3 linked regions of the Homo sapiens genome follow. The protein of the gene in region 1 interacts with the protein of each later gene in a pairwise test. Each region holds a gene or a part of one and is shown in the gene's direction. Other genes may lie near its edges.

Region 1 (7,442 bases):
ACAAGAAGGCCAGGATGGCTGGGGAATGAGGTGGGAGAAGTGTGAAATGAGATCAGAGGAGCTAAATTCCGTAGGACCCCTTGCAGGCCATTAGAAGGACTCTGGCTGGTACTCTGAGTGTGATGGGGAGTGACAAATCTGATCTATGTTTACCTAACTGCTTGGTTGAGAATAGACTATAAGGCAGTAAGGATGGAAACATGGAGACCATGGAGGAGGCTATTGCAGTAATCAAGAAGACAGATGATAGTGGTTTGGACAAGGGCGGGATCAGGATTTGCTGACAGCTTGGATGTAGAGTGAAAATAGAGGAGTCGAGGATGACCCTAGGATGTCTGGCCTGAGCAGATGGGAGGATGGAGTTACCATATTCTGACATGGGAAGACTGCAGAAAGAGAAGGTTCAGGATGGCGTGACAATCAGGGGCTCAGTTTTAGACTTATGGAGCTTGATAGGCCTGCCTACCAGACAATAAGGAAGGGATGTCAAGCTGACATGTGGATATATGAGTTTGGAGTCCAAGTGAGAGATCTGAGAATCACCACCAAACACATGACATTTATTATTTATTTATTTATGAGATGGAATCTCACCTGTCATCCAGGCTGGAGTGCAGTGGCATAATCTCAGCTCACTGCAACCTCTGCCTCCCGAATTCAAGTGATTCTCCTGCCTCAGCCTCACAAGTAGGTGGGACTATAGGTGCATGCCACCACACCCAGCTAATTTTTGTATTTTTTAGTAGAGATGGGGTTTCACCATGTTGGCCAGGATGGTCTCAAACTCCTGATCTCAAGTGATCTGCCTGCCTCGGCCTCCCAAAGTGCTGGAATTATAGGTGTGAGCCACCAGCCAGGCTATTTTTAATCCTTTTTAATAGAAAAATTCAAACCCATACAAAAATAGAGAGAATGGTACAGTGACTCTCTATGTACCCAGAATCTAGCTTCAACAATCATTACTTTCTGCTGTTATTGGATAGTATTTAAAGACCAGAAACTGGATGATAGCTCCATGGGAGTGAGTGTGGAAAGAAAAGAGAAGAGAGTGACCAAGGCCTAGGCTAATTCAGCAAGAAAAGATTGAGAAGGTGGGGAGGAACCAGCAAAGGGGACTGAAAATAAACAGCCAGTGAAGTAGGAGGAAAACCAGATTATGGTAGCCTGGAAGCCAAATGATGAAACAAATAATTCCCAAGTAACAATTTAGTTACAGTATGATCAGTGCTGAAAGAAATAAACAGTGTGTTGACCCAGCATGGTGGCTCACACCTGTAGTCCCAGCACTTTGGGAGGCTGAGGCAGGAGGATCACTTGAGTCCAGGAGGTCGAGGCTGTGGTGAGCCATGTTTGTACCACTGCACTCCAGCCTGAGCAACAGAGTGAGACCCTGTTTCCAAAAAAAAAAAAAAAAGAACAAAACAGAAAAAGTATTGTGCGATGAGAGTGTATGACATGAGAATTAACTTAGTGTGGGGGCCAGAGAAGGCCTCCCCGAGGCAGTGACATTTAAGCTGTTGCCCTCCCTCATTCTCCCTGTGACCAGCTAAAATCCTACCTCCTCCATCCTGCTTCCACTCAACTAGCTCCTCCTTTCTGGGATGGCTTAATTGAGGACAGTGTGGCAGCCATTAGTGGGGTTTGGGGACACAGATGAGAAAGAAACAATTCCTGCCTTCAGGGAGCTTGCCCTGTAGCAGGGAGACAGACAAGCAAAGGACTTCATCACCATGAGGTGAGTGCTGGGATCAGATAAGCACAGTGTGAGCCTTGAGAGAAGCAGGGAGGGACACATACCCAGTCTGGGAGAAGTCAGGAAAGGCTTCCTGGAGGTGACATCTGAGTGGAGCATGGAGTAGAAGTTGGACCTCCAGGTTGCCTCCTCTGTCCATGCTCTTCAGCTTGGCTTGCACTTGTCAGGTGTTAACTCTTGTCCACATGCTTACATTTTAAAATTTGCCTGAAATCTCCAGCCCAGATTAAATCCTGACCTCAGTGCAGAGAATCGCACTTGAGGCCTGGCATTCGCGAGGACCCTTTGCAAAGATGTTCACAGGGCCATTTGATAGCTCTTTGAGGAACAGGTGGAAGCATCCTGTTTCGCCGCCAAGCTTTCCTTACATAAATTTTCAAGTGAAGGTTGGTATTCCCACCGCCGGCGCCCTCGGTTTCTGGAGGCGGCACGTTTGGCCACGCGCTGCGAGGCGCCTCTGCCTTCCCCGCCTGGTGGCTCCCGGCAGGGGCGGGCAGGGCACGTGAGGGCGTCTGCGCCCCCTCCTGGCACTCGGTGCTGCTGGCCGCGCGGGCTGCCCGGGAAGGGAAATCCCGGAGGAAGCCATTGTTGTTATGTCCCCTGTTGTCGTCATCGGCTGAGCCGTGCCAAGAATCCCTTTCCCCGCATAGGACCCCGCAGTTTCTCCCCATTCTCGAGCTCACCCGCCAGGGTCACTACGGGCCAGGCTGCCGCATCCGAGCCGCGGAGTGCGCGGTGGCCGCTGCGCATCCCAGCTCCAGGGTTCTCAGAATTGGGGAGAGCCCTAGGATGGGTGCGACGCTTAGAAAACCGACGGCGCCGGGCCCGACGTACCCAGAGCCCTGGCATAGCTAAGCAGGGACTTGGGTTCCACCTTGGCTCTGATAAGTAGCCCGAAAAGGTGAACTTGGCCGGTGGTTTCCTGCTCTCGCCGCCTCAATTTGCTTCCCTGTGACCCGAGGAGAAACAGAGGTCCGTCAAGTCCCGCGCCTTAAAGGGAGGTTAGAGGGAGAACGACCCCCTCGCTCCCTTACCCCCTCACCCCTCATGGGCTTTGGACTGGGGAGGCTGGGGGCTGGCGCGGAGGAGAGGCTGGCGCAGCCGGGGGTGGGGACGGCGCGGAGGGCGCGCGCAGCCCCTGTGGCTCTCCCGTGCCGCTCTGCAGCAGCGGCGCAGGACAGTCCCTTCGCACGCGCCGCCCGCACACCTTGGCACGGGCCAAGCCACACTCTCCCCCGCCGGAACAGCCAGCCCGCCGCCCAGCTTTCCTAATCCGTTTAAGCCTCACCTCCTCCGCGAAGCTCTCCCGGGTTAACCCCATCACTTCCAACCACTGTATCTGGCACGTGCTCCCGTTTTTGTTTTGTTTTGTTTTGTTTTTTTGCAAGTGCACTCTTGGGCTCGTTGGAATAACAATATCGAGGGTAGGTGTCTGTCCCCAGAAGCCTAAGTTCAGGACGCCCAGTGTGTTCTGAAGGATGCGGCTGATGAGTTTCTTGCCTGGGCTCACTAACCATTCCCACCCTCCACGCTTCCCCATCCCTGCTCACTCGCTCCCCTCCTCCTACGGACCCTCCTCTTCACAGACTGTCACAGCTTCGAGTGCACAATCCTCTTCCCACCCCCTCCCATTCTACAGTGGCGGCAGGTGCGAGGGGAGAGAACATTGAGCATTTGAAGCTTCGACTTGAGGCTCGGCCACCGACTTTGCTGTAAGTCGCTCCCTCCCCTGGGTTTTAGTTTCCCCCAAATGAGGCAGAATGCGGTAATGTCCAGGAGGGCGCTGCAGGTGTGGAGGATGGGAATCACTAGCTGACACGCTGCCCCGCTGCCCCTCAGCCCCTCTCCATAAACAGTGGCCGTGACACCAGATAGGCGGCTCGACTTCACTGGACCCCCGCCCGTAAGAGAACTGTGAGCGCTCTCCAGTTGCCAGTGCGGCGTCCAGAGCCGGGGAGGGAAAGAGGATGGGGGTCCAGGCCGGGCCCTTTATTCACAGCCTGCATGACCTTGGACTCTTCTTCCTCTGGGTCTCAGTTTACTCATTTGAAAAGCAGGGATAACAGTGGGTTGAAGGAGAGCAGGAAGCTTGTCACCCAATGTTTCTGTATAAAAATAAATGATCATTCGCGGTACAGTGATTGGCAGCAGACTGGGCTCGTGAATTCCGACCCCAGATTCTCCGTAAAGGGGTTTCTGGAGTCCCTGGAATCTCCCTGTGTCACCGCTCACCTCATGTTCTTTCTGGTTCTCTGGAGATAGGTAATGGGTCCGCTCCTGTTTCTGCCTCCGCGTGAGGGTTGCGGCCACAGGGTGACGGCGTGGTGGGCGACACCCCCGCGCAGGCATGCACAGAGTGGTGGTCGTTGGGCGAAGGTTGGTCGTGAGGTTCTTGGGCTTCAGGAGCGAGGCTTGGAACCGGTGGGCGGGACTGTGTGCAGAGGTGGGGCTAGCTCGCCTGGGGGACGGGGCTGTGGAGATGAGGAGTTCTCCAGAACTCGGGTGGCGGGGCGCTCCCGGGCTCTGGCGCGGGGAAATGGGGCTTTGGCAGTGGGGGCGGGGCTTAAGGGTGGGGAGAGGCCGGGGAGCCTGGAGGCGGAGCTTGGGGAGCTCGCCCCACGCGGGGCGGGGCTCCGGCGGCAGCGGGATCTGCAGTTCGGACTCCGCGCGCCACAGTCGCTGCAGTTCGCTCCACTCTGGTGGCCCCGCCGCCCTGCGGGGATCCCGGGGGTCGGCGGGCTGCTCGGACTTGGCGCGGGGCCGGCCCGGCCTCTCTCTTCCTCGGTGGGGCCTAGACGGTCGGGGCACCGGGAACATGGAGCCCTCTCCAGCCGCTGGGGGCTTGGAGACCACTCGCCTGGTGAGCCCCCGGGACCGCGGTGGCGCCGGAGGCAGCCTGCGTTTGAAGAGGTAGGACAGACCTGGGCTGGCCCTCGGCCCGGGGGCGCCACCCTACTACCCTCCGTCCATTTCGTTGTCTCTCTCGGCGCGGGCCCCGGCGGCCGCCCCAGCGCACCGCGGGTCCCTCGCTCCGCTGCACCCCGCTTCATCCCCTCTGGCCACACGGAGCGCCCAGCCCTACACAGCCGGCTACGCCTCCTCCCGGCCGCCTGACTTCCTCGGGTGAAGCGGCCTCTCACTCCCCTCCGGCCGGCGTCCCAGGCCGCCGGACCCCTCCGCCACCCCCGCGGCGCCTGCCTTCCCTGGGAGCAGCTGCCGCTCGGTCGGGCCGGAGCCCTCGCCCGGTGCGCCAAGGTCCGCATTGCCCCGGGCCCAGGGCGGGAGCGCCTCGCTGCCCAGGCTTCAGAGCTCCCTCTGTAGGCCCCGGGGGCTCCCCTCCGCGCGCCCCCTCCAGCCGCGGCCAGCTGTGGGCGCCGGGGCCCGAGGATGGGCCGGGCTCCGCGCGGGTCTTGCGGGCCCCTGGGGGGCGGGCGGCCGCCGGGAAGCGAGGGGGCGGCGAGGAAGGAGCAGGTGCGGTCTGGGCAGCGGGGGTATTCCCGGCTCCGCACAGACGGGGCCGGGGGCGGCGAGGTGTGAAATGAGGCGCGCGGAGCGGCCGGGACAGCGGGCCGGGGGTGGCAGGAGAACCGCCAACGCGCCCCGCCGGCCCCCGCGCCTGCCGCCACCGTCCACCTGCCCCTCTGAGCGGCCGTCCGACCTCCCTGCCCACCCCCGTGGGCCATCTTGTCTGTCGGCTGACCGTCCGTTTGTCTCCGGAATTTGGCAGGGTCTCCGGCTTTTTCTCTTCCCCCACCTCTCTCAATCTTTCTGTTTCTCTCCTAGTCCCTTTCCCTTTGTCTCTGACGTGGTGCTTCTGTGTGCTTCTCGCTCTTTCTTTGGGTGGGGGCCTTCAAGCTGGGTTGGGGGAGGGGGTGAGCAGAAGAGAGCTGGACCCCTTCCTGCAGGGGCCTGCAGAGACGCGGTGGGGGCTCTGCCGTAGGCCTGGCATCTCTTCAGGTGTCCTTTTGATTTTGGTTCAGCCCCTGCTACGTCACCCCTCTTCCCCGCTCAATATCGGTTGTTGGTTGGGGGTTTCGGAGGGCCAGGGAGAGGAAACAGCCTTTCCTTGTCTCTAAACAGCATGTAGCCACCCCACATGCCCACACCCCCACACACCAACAGCCAGGCTTCCTTAGTGCCCAAATTATGCAGAACAAAAGGGAGCAGCCTGTTGATGGGTGGCCACCTTGATGACTGGCTGTGCTGTGCCTTACAAGGCCAGGGAATGAATGTTGCCCACTGCCCCCAAAGCCACCCAGCCTCTGCGCTTCAGACTCACATCTCCAACTCCAGTCCATCTTCACTCATATGACCATTAGTCACCGAATCCTGCAGCATTTTCTGAAAGGCATTTCCTAACCTACCTGCCCCTCCAGGGAAGCTCTGGCCTGGTTTGTTCTAGACCCCTCCATTTCCTCTCTTCTCCTCTCTTCCTCCCATCAGCAAGGTCATCTCAGTGCTCAGGAGATATTTGTTCAAGCAGTCAGTGTATCTCCCTTTATGTTCCTTTGAGCCCATCACTTTCCTCCTCAGCCCTCCCCTGACACTTCACGCTTAGACTCCAAGCCACAAACCTCGTCTTTGTCATTCTACATGTCTGGAACACCCTTCTCCAACTAGGTCTCATCTCCTTAAACATACCTTTCTCTGTGAAGTTCTCCGAGCCCGCTGTGAGGGAGTGCTCCCTTCCCTGCACCCCAAAGTGCTTTGTTCATAACCCTCCTAGCATCAACCTGTCCTTATGTAGTAAGCCATTTGTTACAATCTGTCTTTCCCACCAGACCAGGCTTCATTATGTGTGCTCTGCCTGGTGCACCTCATTGAATGAATGAGGATCGGTTTCACAGCCTCCTTCACCACGCCATCTCCTCTGGAAACACATCCAGAATCATACACGCCCAGATTCTAAGTCTTGGATGGGGCTTTGGAAATTCAAGAAATTAATCTACCAGTATTTCAGTTCTCTGTACAAGCACCAAATGTTCCCCCTACCTCCCTCAAAACTCAGTTCACCCACTTGGCAGAATTGTCTTTAGCCAGAAGGCCCCAGACATCCCGCCCCACTTTGCTGCTATGATCACATTTCTATCTGGAGCCATCGTTTTTACTTGTGGGTATTCTTGTCACACCTCCATGAGTATTTCTAGTACTGTATTTTCTATTCAGGTCCTGAATTCTGTGGAAAATTCTGTCCTTGCTGGGTTCAGGTTGGGTAGTGGTGGGGCTGAGAATTGGACCAGAATGGACTTAGCACTCAGCCTGACCTCACTCAGCCTCTGGCATCCCCAGGTGAGGTCCCAAGCCCCATTCATTTGTCAAGGGAGACTTATGGTACCATGCAGTTAAGGTGGGCTCTGCTGGGTGCTTATAGTCGGACTGAAGTCCAATTAACATGCTCCTCCCACTGCCATCCTCAGCCATAGCAGGCTGCACCCCTTCCTCCCATGACAACCCCAGCTCTGGAATCTAGCCATCAGTTCTCTGTGCCCGGAATCAGACTTTTTGGCCCCAATGTCCCGCTCGTCTCTTAAAGGGCCACACTTCAGCTTCATGTCTAGGGAGGGCGGGGGCAGGATCCAGGAGTGGAGGTTCTGGGAGGTGGGCCTGGAAAGGAGGCACACCAAGGCCAGGAACACATGCTGAGTCCCACTCCACACTTCACTCCACCTTCCCTTCATACTGCCTTGGC
Region 2 (7,026 bases), on another chromosome or scaffold:
ATATGGTCCATAATAATGTTAACAACAAAAATGTTACTTTTACTACAGTATTAACACTTTGTACATTGGAATTGAAAGTTTGAAAGAGCTATACTTTTAGAAAAACAACAAAAATAATTTTTATTTCTCTGTATTTGTAGACATTTTGAACGAGGAAATTAGCGTTGGTTTATGTTAAAGTATAGGCTGGTGTAGGACTTTATACTAGTTGTTAGTATTAGAGTAGGTATTCCATGTCATCATGTTAGTTTTTTTCTTCTATTCTTTCACTTCATGAGTACATTTAAATTATTAGGATTGGAGTCCTAGGCTCAACGTATACATCTAATAAAAGTTGTATATACATTTTTTAAACTGATGAATCTAAATATTCCCCAATCTATGAATACCCAACTTATCTACATTATTCATTTATTCATGCTTTTAATAAATGTTTAATAGCTTTTTTGCATACCTGACATTTAGCATATAAACACCCTAGAGAGTTAGTAGGATGCTTACGGTAAAGCCAGGTGTCTCCTGTGAGGCCATGTATCTTCTGACCATTTGTTTCTAAATAGCTGTTGTTCACAGGGTATGGGTGCTGTCTGTTGGTTGGGGGTGGTAATGATTGGCATTGGCCCTCTTTTCGCAGATATAGTACCCTGCATTTTGGTGAAAAAAATTGTCTACTTGGTAGTTGCAGTTAGAACATAACTTGCTGGGTCCTTGAATTAACTTTGGAGGGGTCAGAAAGAAGGGATGAGTGGTACAGGAAGAGGGAGGAGAGCTGTAGGATGACGAAATGTGGAAGCCAGGCTTATGATACCATTTCTTTCCGTATTTACTTGCCATGTACAGGCACAGTTCTAGGCTCTGGAAAGGAAAGGAGGACACTTGGTCACTGCCCTCATGCATCTTGCAAAGTCTAGGGGGTCACTGTCATTCCCCTTTCCTTGATATCATGGTCTGGAGGCAGTGTGATCTGTCAGACTCAGGACTAGCTGGGGCCTAGGGAAGATCAGAAAAGTCCTTCCCTGCTCTTCTCATCTCTACTTCTCCTAAGTGAAAGGAATATACAGTTGTTTTTAGAATATTTTAGCTGTTTCACCACAGTTTACTTCCCTCTACCCTTGAATGAGGAGTTGATGTGAGTACTGTCAGAGTATTTGGAGAGGCATACTAGGGCAAAAGGTGTCAAAGGCAAGGGGAACAGCTTGACTGAAAACCATGGAAACTGGGAAGGTGCTTAAGGGTCAGGCCAGTGAGTCATCCAGGTTTGATGAAGCTGGGGGCTAGTGGGAGGGGATGTTTAACTCAGCTCAAATAAGCTGAAGTAAAAGCAGGTTTGTCTTAGGGATTGCTAGGTCCCAGAGGAGCATGTATTTTAAGTATTGTACAGTATGCTTACATTAATTTTATTATTCGTCACAGTTAATGTTTAGTTTTTCATCTATGTTATTATCTAAAATAGGTTTATTTGTTTGGCTAAGCCTGGTAATGCAGTTTTCTTTGAATGTTTCTTTGAGAAAAGACATTCTGATTCCAAGTTGTAGGCAGCTAATTAAAAAAAAAAAAGAAAGAAAGAAACATCACCAGCTCCTAACATGGGATCTCCCTTGGTCACTGTTTTCAGTGACGTCCTAATTATCCTTTACTCATAAGCTCCTTGAAGCCTCTGGGATGTCCATGCCATTTTATGGTTTTTTGTTTTGGTTTGGTTTTTATTGTCTTTTCCTTCACCACAGTTTGATTTTTGGTGGTAGACTGCTAGACTTTAATAGCTAATGCTCTTATCCATTCCCCAATGATAGCATAAAGTAAAACATCCTATTGCAGATGGAATTCCAGGAGGGTAAACAATGCAGGTTCTAAAACGGGTGTCAGGACACAGTTTTAACTATTTTAACTTAGATTCTTTGGCTTAGGAAGACAAAGTTTTAAGAATTATGCAGATAATTATATCAGATGGCACTTTTGTAAACTTAAGAGCCACAGAGCACTTGGTCATCCTTTAAAAATTCAATTTGTTTTCTTATTTTTTTGCTCAAGTCCTGTGGATAATGTCACCTGTAAATGCTTTAACATTATTAACGTAAGTATTTTCATTTGTTAAGCCACTTATTATTCTGAATTAGGCATATATTAGCACACCGAAATGAGTAGTGTAACAGTCTATCTTTTTTCACTTTAGATGTTTTTTTCGTCTTCATTATCAGGACATTTTGCCTGTTAACAAACGAAGGTACTATTGTTTTATTTTCTATTAGAATATATATTTTAAAATCATGTGGGTTTGGATTTCAGAAAGGAGATGGGAGGAAACACATGGCCTTTTAAAGCCAAGGTCCACATTAACTTTCTCGCTTGATCCTTCAGTATTCCCCTGCCCAAAGACCTGCAGCTCTAGCCAACTGGGATAACTCACTGACCCTTAAGTAAAATGTGTACATGTCCACCTTTATGTTTCTCATCCCACCATTCCCCTTGCCTTTACCCACCTTTTCCCTGTTTACCTCTCCAGATACCTTTTACCAGAACCCAGTACAATAGTCCTCCTTTGCAAAGCCTTTCTTGTTTATGGTACCCTGGAGCAAGTTGTTGTCTCACAGGAGCTCATTGTCTTTAGTAATTACTCACGTATTTCCTGTGCCATTCCTTCTATGACCCTAGTGTCAAACTGTTTAAACTTTCGTTATTATTTACCACTTCACTCCTTTGTATCTTTCTCTCCAACATCAGAGATTATCACATATATTTGTTGATATGATATGTATCAGGAGATGACCCTCTTAATCTAGCATAATTTTGAATCATGATATATTGTGGTTGCTAAACATGAATAAGGCTTTAGACCACACTAAATTACAGAAGGTTTTTGTTTTTGTTTTTCATAGAGTGGGGATTTCACCATGTTGCCCTGGCTGCTCTTAAACTCCTGGTGTCATGTGATCTGCCCACCTCAGCCCCACAAAGTGCTGGGATTACAGGCACGACCCACTGTGCCCGGCCAGAGAGTTCTTTAAAAGAATGATATTTTTTATGAGTTGGTCATTAATTCAGTTGCCGTTCACTAAATTTAATGAGTAAATCAGGCCATTAAGTCATTTAGAAGCACAAAACAGATAAAAAATGAAGATTCCAAGACATATAAAATCAGATATGATTGTTCTCTTCATTGTCTGTGCAGAAGCATTGCCTTGTGTGGAAGTGAGGAGGGCAGTGTGGTATAGTGAATGGGAAGAATTCTGGACTGGGATTTAGATGACCTAGGTTTTAGTCCTGGTCTGCTGCTGATTTGCTATGAGAGTTTGGACAAGTTCCTTTGCCTTCCCAATTCTCAGCATTGTTCTCTGTAAATTAAGAGGGTTAAATTAGGTAATCTGTAAGGTCCTACCTGACTCTAAAAGTCTAGATATAGATATCACTTTCTTTATTCTTGGAATAGGTAAAGCAATTTCAAATAAATATACATTTATCAGGGATTCAGAAACCTCATTCTTTATAGTAAATAAAATTTTTTTCCAGCAAAACTGTTATCAACACTGCCTAAATAGTACAAATAACAGATTCTTATTTAGTTCTTTTTACTTTTTAAAATTTGCTTTATAAGAAATAGGTAGAGGAATAGAGCAACAAAAGTATACAGATATTTAAGCGTCTGTTTTGAAATAACATTGCTTTTGTTGCTGTAACACTATACCTGTTTAATTATCTGGATTCCTTGAATAACCAAGAGCCAACTATTTTATCGAAAACAGTAGCAATAATATTAAAGAATAAAATTATCTCAATTATATATTACATTTATTTTGTGATACTCAGCTTTTGAGGATGGCATATTATGTCGTTTTAGGCAAGTTATTCATGACTCTTTGGGTCTCTTATTTCTACCTGTGCTGTGAGAGGGTTGAACTACATAACCTTTAAGGCTTAGTTTATTGAATCCTTATAACATCTCCTAAAACAGCAGCCTAGATATCAGTCTAAACTCAGTCTTCATATTTTTCCAATAGAAAATGTGAAATTTTAACATACATCATTACAAATGATTTTCTATTATAAACACTTTATATATGAGCATTTTTTACTTAAGTTTGGAAGTATGGCTTAAGATTTTTGTAAAATTGATAAAAATGTGTAGGTCTTACAGAAGAGAAAACAAAAGAAACTAAATGGTTTTGGTATAAGTATGTTCCTTAACTAATCAAAATACAAATTTTTAAAATCTTTTGCCATATATTTTTCTTCATGAAATATTACCATTTGTAAACAAATACCTTAGAATGATGTTTTATTTATGATTATATTGTATTAGAGTAAAATTTTTGGAATTTGAAAGACAAATGCATTAGTCCACTGAGGAAATCAGTTACTCACTGTCAGGTATAATCACATAAAAGCATTTGTGATTTTGAACTGCAGAATTCCAAGAAACAAGCTTTTCTGTTTTCATTTTTATTCACTTATCAAACAAAAACTTGAGCACAGATGTGTGTTTTTAACTAATTTTATATATTTTTTCACACACGTACATAGCAGCATTATTCACAGTAGTTAAGAGGTGGAAACGACCCAGATGTCCAGTGTTGGATAAATGGATAAACGCAACGTGGTATATACATACAATGGAATATTATTCAGTCTTAAAAAGGAAAGAAATTCTGACATGTGCTACAACATAGATGAACCTTGTTACTAAGTGAAATAGTCTAGTCACAAAAAGATAATTATGTATGTGGCATTATGGTTCCACTTATATGGACCCTCTACTGTAGTCAAATTCGGGCTGGGCCCAGTGGCTCATGCCTATAATGCTAGCACTTTGGGAGGTGGAGGCTCAAGGATCACTTGAGCCCAGGAGTTCAAGACCAACATGAGCAACAAAAAAATATTAAAAATTAGCCAGGCCTGGTGCCATATGCCTCTAGTCTCAGCTATTGAGAAGGCTGAGGGAGAAGGATCACTTGAACCTGGGAGGTGAAGGCTTCAGTGAACCATAATTGTGCCACTGCACTCCAGCCTGGGTGACAGAGTAAGATCCTGGCCCAATAAATAAATAAATAAATAAATAAATAAATAAATAAAGTAGTCAAATTAATAGAAACAGAAAGTAGAAAGATGTTTGCTAGGGCCTGGGGAGAAGGAGAACTGATGACTTGTTTAATAGGTATAGAGTTTCAGTTTTTCAAGATAGAAAAGTTCCAGAGAGTCACAACAATGTGGATATGCTTAATGATACTGGACTGTACACTTAAAAATGATTAAGATGGTATATTTTATGTTATGTGCTTTTCTTTTTACCGCAATGCAAGAATTTCATATATTATAAAATTAATACATTAGCACCTGTAGAAATGATCTCTTTAGTGCTCAATGGTAAAACAGTCAATTCTTCTTTATTTTTTCAATTTAAAGTAAAATGACTTTATAAAGAGACTATATAGCTGTTGGCTTAAAAAAAATCCGAGTGGCTAGAAAGTAGCAAATAACAAGAAAGAAAACTTTAGCTTTGTATTTTGCTTTATGGTTTTACAAACAACTTCACAATAACTCTGGGAGATAGGCCTTGAAGGCATTTTTTCCATATATTTAGAAGTCTTTGAGATTTACAGAAGTTACGTAACTTTTGTAGGTGGTCACTATAGTGCAAATGAATGTGCATGGGTTGTTTTGTCCCTAGCCCAGTGCTCTTGTCTTCCCGTCACACTAGCCAAGCAAGAAAGAAATAATCAGGCCTGTAATCTGTGTTTCTCTTTTATTTTACCTTTTCTTTTATTGTTATCTACAGAGTATCACTGTTTAGAATACTAAATCTGAACAAAGTCATAATATTACCAAAGATCATCTAAAGAAAGACATCTAAATATTCAAAGGTGCTATAAAGGCTGGTGTATGAGATTAAACTACAAAGTGATATTTATTCATATACTATATACATACACAAATATGTGAATATATGTAGAATACAAAATGCGATATTTAGCCTGAGAAGATGGTTAACTTCCATATGACGGTGTAGGATTGTTTAAAAAAAGTGTATTCAAAGTGAATTATGAAAGTATTTGCCAAATTGCATAATACAAGAGCTAGAAACTTGTTAGTGAAAGGATAATGAAATTCATTCAGGACTAACCGTATTTTACCCAGTGGCTATTCAACTTATAGAACTGTTAGAGTCAAGGGAAGATTTTGGCTAAAGTTCCCATTAACTCACACACTCACACACTCTAATGGTATCTTCCATCTTTTTTGCTAAAGGGAAACACCATTTCAATTTTCTTAAAGCTTTGAGTTCATTGGCAGCATTGGGTGGATGGTTGAACTTGGAACTCCCAGATTAAGTTTTATGACTACTTTTTCTGAGAAGCCCAGCAAAATTGGAAACAAGGAGAGAAGGAAACTACTTGTATTCTGATCTTGGCTTCCAGGAAACGAGGCAACATTCTTCAGCTCTCTCTCTCGAGATATATTTTCTCCCTTGAAATTGTCTCCTTTTCCCTTATGAACTGGCTTTTATGAATAGGCCATTTTCTGAAGTCATGAATTTGGACATCACCTGCACTTGGGCATGGTGGCTCACGCCTGTAATCCCAGCACTTTGGGAGGCCGAGGCGGGTGGATCATTGAGGTCAGGAATTTGAAACCAGATATCGTCTGCACATGATGAAACTCACTACCATTTATTGAGCATTTAGTATAGGACCATTTTAAGATGCTGTAGTACTGTATTTGATACACCTTATATTTAATTTTCAGATCATCTCTATAAGTTAGATATTATTTAACCATCTATAGATGAAGAAATAGACTCAAAGCTACATAGCTAGAAAGTAACAGAGTTGGAATAGGATCAAGATCTTTCTCCTTCCCAACAGTGACCTTTTTATAATGCAACATAGCCTACTTATTTATTCAATAAATACCATTTTATTGCCCAGTAATAATAGTGAACATTTATTGGATGCTTACTAAGTGTCAGGCACTGTGTCCAGTGTTTTATATGTATTATCACATTTAGTCCTCATATTCCATTGGGCTCGGTAC
Region 3 (6,763 bases), on another chromosome or scaffold:
AAATTAGATATATATAAAAGGTCCTCCTATAGCTCTGATAGGGCCATTTATTAAGACCTGCTATACCATTTCTTGCTTTAGGGATTACATATGACTTTTTAGAACTGTGGAGATGGGCAGATTACTTTTCCAGAAATTTTTTTAGTACATCTTTCATGCCTCAGAAGCATCTAGGGGAATATAATTGGGAGTTGGGTAGACAGGTTCGAAGTCAGTGATTGAGTCATTAGATCTAGATGGGGTTTGGGCCTTGGAATTCCATTTTTATTGTTCCATCTATGATTCTGATCTCAGTAAGAACCACTGATCCAGTGTAGCCCTCTTCTTTTTTGAAGATGAGAAGACTAAAGCCCAAAGGGTTAGATTGCATTCATTATAAGGAAGACTTTGAATGATTAAAGAGATAGTGACCAGGGGATTGTATGTGACTGAATTTACTTTTTCTTCCTTCATTTATTTTTTTGTTTTAAGACTGGAAAATATCAAAGGCATCTTTGTTTTTGGGAATCCCCAATTGTCAGTCATTGCTCTGGGATCCCGTGATTTTGACATCTACCGACTATCAAACCTGATGACTGCTAAGGGGTGGAACTTGAACCAGTTGCAGTTCCCACCCAGGTAAGCTTGAAGAAGCCTCTTTCCCTTATTTTGCTCCATGATTTTGGAAGAACTTGGGTGGTACAGTAACCTGAAGTATAGAGTTTGACTGCTAGAGGCTAGCACGTTAGTAGCAACTGTAGTATATAAAGGATTTCTCTCTTGCCACCTGGAATTATTAGATACAAAGAACAAGACCATTAGCTTTAAACTCTGGCAGAATTAGGTGACAGCCTCCTAGACCAGTGGTTGGTCATGAGGTTTTTCTCTCAGTCTCTAGCCTTTCTACTCTCCAATCCATCTTGTACACAGCCATCAAATTGCTCTTATAAAATACTTGTTACCTGGCTAATATTTAGTTCAAGATCTTCCTGGGGGTCTCTAATCATTCAGGCCTGCTACTGCCTTCTTTATTAGACTTTTCTAACCTAATCTTCCATGATGCCTTTGAGTAAATGCACCACTCCAACTGAGTACAGGTCTGTTCATGTCCTCTGTGTACAGCTTAGCCTTCCACACGTTGGTGCATTGCCAGTCCCATCTGGACTATCTTTTTCCCTCTTCACAATTCCAGTAAACCCCACTAAATTCCTCCAGGGCGAGGTAGAATTTCTTCTGTGCCCTGAAGTCCTTTAAGACCCCAGCCATGTGGCCCTGTCCCCATGAGAGCACATGGGGGCTGATTATCTAAGATAAAAGTGTCTCATTGATGGTGACGTGGTTGAAGGAATGGTGGTGGAATTTGTGAGGGGATGGGTGGGACAAAGCAGCCAACACTGTTCATCCTCTTAGCATGGTTCTCAGTCATGCCGAGAAGCTCTGAGGCCAGCCCATGCCTGACACCCCAAGCATGAGAGAGCCGAGATTCCCAGGACTAGGAACAACTTGGATGACTACACTTGTCAGAAATATTGTGAAAGGGCAACCAGGAAATTCCCGTATTTGGGGCTGCATCATTTTAGAACATTTTTTCTTTCTTCAAGGTTCATCTCTCTCTGTCTCTTCTTTCCTAGTATTCATTTCTGCATCACATTACTACACGCCCGGAAACGAGTAGCTATACAATTCCTAAAGGACATTCGAGAATCTGTCACTCAAATCATGAAGAATCCTAAAGCGAAGACCACAGGAATGGTAGGGACACTTGGAGTTTTTTTTCTTCTCTTGGAAATTTAGGTGTTGGTGGAGAGTTTGAAGGAATCATATGACCCGGAGTCTGTTCCTGCCTCTGCCCCTTTGCCACAGACATCTTTTATTTGTTGACTGGAGCTGATGATCTCTGCATCACCCACCCCTTAGGGTTGCTGAAGTCTCAAATGAGATACACTATAAAGTACCTTGTAAGTTAGAGACTTCTGTATAAAAGCAGCTGGTGGTAGTGTCCATTTGAAAAGAAAATTTTGTCACAGGAAAGATAGTAAACATGTTTTTTCTGGAATTTTCTTAGGCTAGTCCCTTTATGCAGAAAGGCAGACTGGAAAGTCCCTGTGAAAAATTGACTATGCCAGCTGTTTTTCTGATAGAATGATGGGATGCCTTAGGTGGAAATGGGGTAGGGCAGTGCACATGCGAAGCTAGGACTCGGGGAGAAGGGGCTCATTGCTGCAGTTTTATTCTTGCTTTTGGACCTGGCCTCACTAATAATGTCTCTTTCTTTGGATTTGTAGGGTGCCATCTATGGCATGGCCCAGACAACTGTTGACAGGAATATGGTTGCAGAATTGTCCTCAGTCTTCTTGGACAGCTTGTACAGCACCGACACTGTCACCCAGGGCAGCCAGATGAATGGTTCTCCAAAACCCCACTGAACTTGGACCCTTTCTAGTCTCAAGGGGATTCCAGCCTTCAGAAGGTTCTTGGGATATGGAACAGGCCGTGCACAACTTTGACATCTGGTCTTGCTCCATAGAGCACAACTCAAGATAGACCATGAGACAGCTTGAGCCTCAGGATTCTTGTTCTTCCTCTTATCTTCCTTTTGTGGTTTTTAATTTGAAGACCCCAGAGAATTCCATTACATAATGATTTTGCCCTTGTTATAAATGTTACCCTAGGAATTGTTTTAACCATTTCCTTTTCTAAACTCTCTAGCTTTCAACTTTACTTAAACATTGTGTGGTAGCTCTGACCTGTCCTGATTCTTTAGAGAAGCTGGGGTACAGTTTATGAGATAGCTAGAGCTTCTTTGTTATCTCAGGCAGGAGGCGTTTACATAACAGATGTTTCCTCAGCTGGGTGTGAGGTATACTCTAAGCAGGAGGCTTTTTCAGCCTTCTCTCTCTTTTTTTTTTTTTTTTTTTTTTTTGAGATGGAATTTTGCTCTTTTGCCCAGTCTGGAGTGCAGTGGCATGATCTCAGCTCACTGCAACCTCCACCCACTGGGTTCAAGCGATTCTTCTGCCTCAGCCTCCCGAGTAGCTGGGATTACCGGCACCCACCACCACGCCTGGCTAATTTTTCAATTTTCTTTTTCAGTAGAGACGGGTTCACCGTGTTGGCCAGGCTGGTCTTGAACTCCTGACCTCAGGTGATACCCGCCCCCCCGCCTCAGCCTCCCAAAGTGCTGGGATTACAGGCGTGAGCCACCGTGCCTGGCCCTGTCTCTCTTAAGAGTAGGTTCATTGTCTGTCTTAGAGTCACTTCTATTGCAACTCATTTTCTTTTTCCAGGGCACAGATCGACCAAGCTGCCGTTCCCTATTCTGCAGGACAGGACTATTCTAGCATACCTGCTTCGTCCACCCAGGCAGGGTTTGGGGTGGTCTCTTCTGTGCCTGCAGTCCCCATTTGACACTTGGTTGCCACCATCTTTGGAGATTATTGTTTGGAATGATGCTTCCATTGGCTTTTTCTTGTTACCATGGACTAGGAAGAAAACATGGTTTCCAAATAATCTGGGAGCTTTTGGCCATGGTGCCGCCTTCCTGAATTGGCAGTGGTCAGAGCACACCTGAACCCTATCCTGGGCTGGTGATGAGCAGAAATCAGACCTTTTTCTATGCTTTTTTGAATATCAGAGTAGGATGAACACCCAGATTCAAATATGTCACCAAAGTTGGTGGTGGTCCTTCCCTGCACCCTTGCGTTAAGCCATTATGTAATGAAAATGTGTTTGCTTGAAGGAACAGCTCAAAGCACCTTCACAAGTTGCCTTGACTTACCCTAGGTGGGTGTGAAAGAGCACCCGTAGCAAGGAAAATTTTCTCTATTAGTGTGTTCTTCTGCCTCTTCCCCCTTGATTCAGCTTTCAGAGGTACTATGGCAGTTTTGCCTCAGGTGCTGAACATTTCTCAGCCCTGGCTAAAAGGGAGCAGCACAGGGAGAGAAACAGGATAGGAAAGCAGAATGGCGAGCAGCCTATGGCCCAGGGCCTGTAATCCCTTCCCAAGACTAGCTGCTCAGGGTGGTGCAGGGACAGGACCAGACCCTGCGCCTATTTCCTGCCTTCTTTCCCCTATAGGGAACTCTGTAGGCTGAGCCACTGTCCTGCTCTTATGACATTATATCTTGTGCCTTTCTCCTCAGCAGTGAGCAGTGAGCTACTCCTGGCCCAGGCCCTAGGGGAAATGGATCAGTCTTTGAGGTTTCTATTTGGGGAGGGGAGTACTTAAGATGAGTCAAAAGACACTTTCCTCTGTTCCATTCCCCATCTCAGGGACTCCTGAATATTCAGCCTCTCCAGGCTGGTGTCTTCTAGTTTCCCCCACTGGGAATGCTGGCTGGGAGAGCCATGACTACCAGACTTTTCCTCAGGCTCCTTGGCATGTTAGTCTGAATTGTTCTTGAGCACTGTACTACTGACCCAACAACTGTGACTAGCTGGCCACGCCATTCAGGGCTGGTGTGGCATTTATGTGTGTGTGTGTGTGTGTGTGTGTTTTTCCTGTTTGCCCAGCAGTGCATTGTGGGTTCCAAGAGTGGGTAGTGTGTGTATGTGTGTGTGTCAGAGGGAGACCTGGCAGGCACCTCTTTGAGAGTAGCTGTGGTCAGAGCTGTTTGGTCAGTGCATTATGTTGAATGAGGTCCAGGAACCCAGAGCCACCCAGCAGACACCACTGTGGCTTGCCAGCTGCCAAGATGGAGAAGCATGTGCCCCTGTAGAGCGTCTCCCCAGAACCAGACCCCGAGCCACTCGCTTCCTCTGTGCTGTGACAACATTGGTGCCAGGGGAGATGGTGTTTTTCAAAGGGACCTACTGTAGCCACTTTAATTTACAATTAAGAGCCTTAGTTTGACTTAACACTTTTGTAGGCTTTTCATTGTGTATTTTTGTGTATGTGTGCATATAGCAGCTACTCTGTAGCAGAGGTGGGTAGAGACACTTAATAGTATCATGTCGCATGCAGATGTCACATCGGCCTCTGCAAAAACTGTACTGTCTTGTTTCTGCATTAGACTTAAGTAGTCATGTGAATATACTGCTATGTCACTTTTAATATTACGAGTTTTATACTTGGAAAATGGTACTTGCTTCTTTTAAATCTCTGTCTTCTCTAACCTCCCCCTTCCCATTTCAATGCTCCCTTCCTAATTTCAGCAATAATCTCAAAAAGCAATTAAATAGTTAAATGACCCTAATTGTAATTACTGTGGATGGTTGCATTCATTTGATTACTTGGGCACACACGAGATGACAAATGGGGCAGTGGCCATGCTTGAATGGGCTCCTGGTGAGAGATTGCCCCCTGGTGGTGAAACAATCGTGTGTGCCCACTGATACCAAGACCAATGAAAGAGACACAGTTAAGCAGCAATCCATCTCATTTCCAGGCACTTCAATAGGTCGCTGATTGGTCCTTGCACCAGCAGTGGTAGTCGTACCTATTTCAGAGAGGTCTGAAATTCAGGTTCTTAGTTTGCCAGGGACAGGCCCTATCTTATATTTTTTTCCATCTTCATCATCCACTTCTGCTTACAGTTTGCTGCTTACAATAACTTAATGATGGATTGAGTTATCTGGGTGGTCTCTAGCCATCTGGGCAGTGTGGTTCTGTCTAACCAAAGGGCATTGGCCTCAAACCCTGCATTTGGTTTAGGGGCTAACAGAGCTCCTCAGATAATCTTCACACACATGTAACTGCTGGAGATCTTATTCTATTATGAATAAGAAACGAGAAGTTTTTCCAAAGTGTTAGTCAGGATCTGAAGGCTGTCATTCAGATAACCCAGCTTTTCCTTTTGGCTTTTAGCCCATTCAGACTTTGCCAGAGTCAAGCCAAGGATTGCTTTTTTGCTACAGTTTTCTGCCAAATGGCCTAGTTCCTGAGTACCTGGAAACCAGAGAGAAAGAGGATCCAGGATGTACTTGGATGAGGAGGCCTGGCTTATCTAGGAAGTCGTGTCTGGGGTGCTTATTGCTGCTCCATACAGCTGTACGTCAGCCCCTTGGCCTTCTCTGTAGGTTCTTGGCAGCAATGAGCAGCTTTCACTCAGTGACACAAGTAATTACTGAGTCCTAATTTGATAGCCACCAACTGTACCTGGGTAGGCAAAGTCAGATTTTTGAGAACCTTTTTCCTGATTTGAAGTTTTAATTACCTTATTTTCTTTTATGCTTTCCTCTGTCTTGTAATCTTTTCTCTTCTTAATATCCTTCCCTATAATTTCAATTATTTGGATTAATTTTAGAATAAACCTATTTATTTCTAAAAAAAAAAAGAAAAGAAAGTGTTACCTGTGTCTTTGTCTCACATGAATGTGCTTCATACAACTGTAGTGCTGCCAAGGTTGGCTTTATTTTTTGGAGACAAGGTTTCACTGTCACCCAGGCTAGAGGGCAATGGCATGATCATCACTCACTGTAGCCTTGACTTCCTGGGCTCAAGTGATCCTCCCACCTCAGCCTCCCGAGTAGCTGGGACCACAGGTGTGTGCCACCATGCCTGGCTAATTTTTCTGTATATTCTGTAGAGACAGAGTTTCTCTACATTGCCCAGCCTAGTCTCTAACTCCTGAGCTCAAATGATCCTCCCGCCTTGGCCTCCCAAAGTGTTGGAAATACAGGCATGAGCTGTCCCTGCATCGGGTGAACATTTTTCAACCCTTGACCCATGAAAATAAGCAGAGGCAGGAATGTAACATAACAGCATAGTCCATACCTCCGCATCTGGCGTCTTCTGTCCTTCAGTCCTCCAGTCATCAGATCAAAGCACACTTGGAAAATTTTA

Evidence for each region. Proteins that work in one complex are often made in the same cells at the same time.
Region 2: the proteins of SLC30A3 (region 1) and ELOVL4 interact in binary tests that used the Homo sapiens proteins (3 or more experiments, as listed by UniProt).
Region 3: the proteins of SLC30A3 (region 1) and SGPL1 interact in binary tests that used the Homo sapiens proteins (3 or more experiments, as listed by UniProt).

The regions. Positions count from the first base shown.
Region 1 is NC_000002.12:27,260,033-27,267,474, reverse strand, and holds the start of SLC30A3 (probable proton-coupled zinc antiporter SLC30A3), read left to right. Parts: upstream 1-4,427; 5' UTR 4,428-4,568; coding exon 4,569-4,663; intron 4,664-7,442. UniProt on the Homo sapiens protein: Probable proton-coupled zinc ion antiporter mediating the import of zinc from cytoplasm into synaptic vesicles and participating to cellular zinc ion homeostasis in the brain.
Region 2 is NC_000006.12:79,937,545-79,944,570, reverse strand, and holds part of ELOVL4 (very long chain fatty acid elongase 4), read left to right. Parts: intron 1-7,026. UniProt on the Homo sapiens protein: Catalyzes the first and rate-limiting reaction of the four reactions that constitute the long-chain fatty acids elongation cycle.
Region 3 is NC_000010.11:70,874,931-70,881,693, forward strand, and holds the end of SGPL1 (sphingosine-1-phosphate lyase 1), read left to right. Parts: intron 1-471; coding exon 472-618; intron 619-1,610; coding exon 1,611-1,731; intron 1,732-2,264; coding exon 2,265-2,405; 3' UTR 2,406-6,254; downstream 6,255-6,763. UniProt on the Homo sapiens protein: Cleaves phosphorylated sphingoid bases (PSBs), such as sphingosine-1-phosphate, into fatty aldehydes and phosphoethanolamine. Elevates stress-induced ceramide production and apoptosis.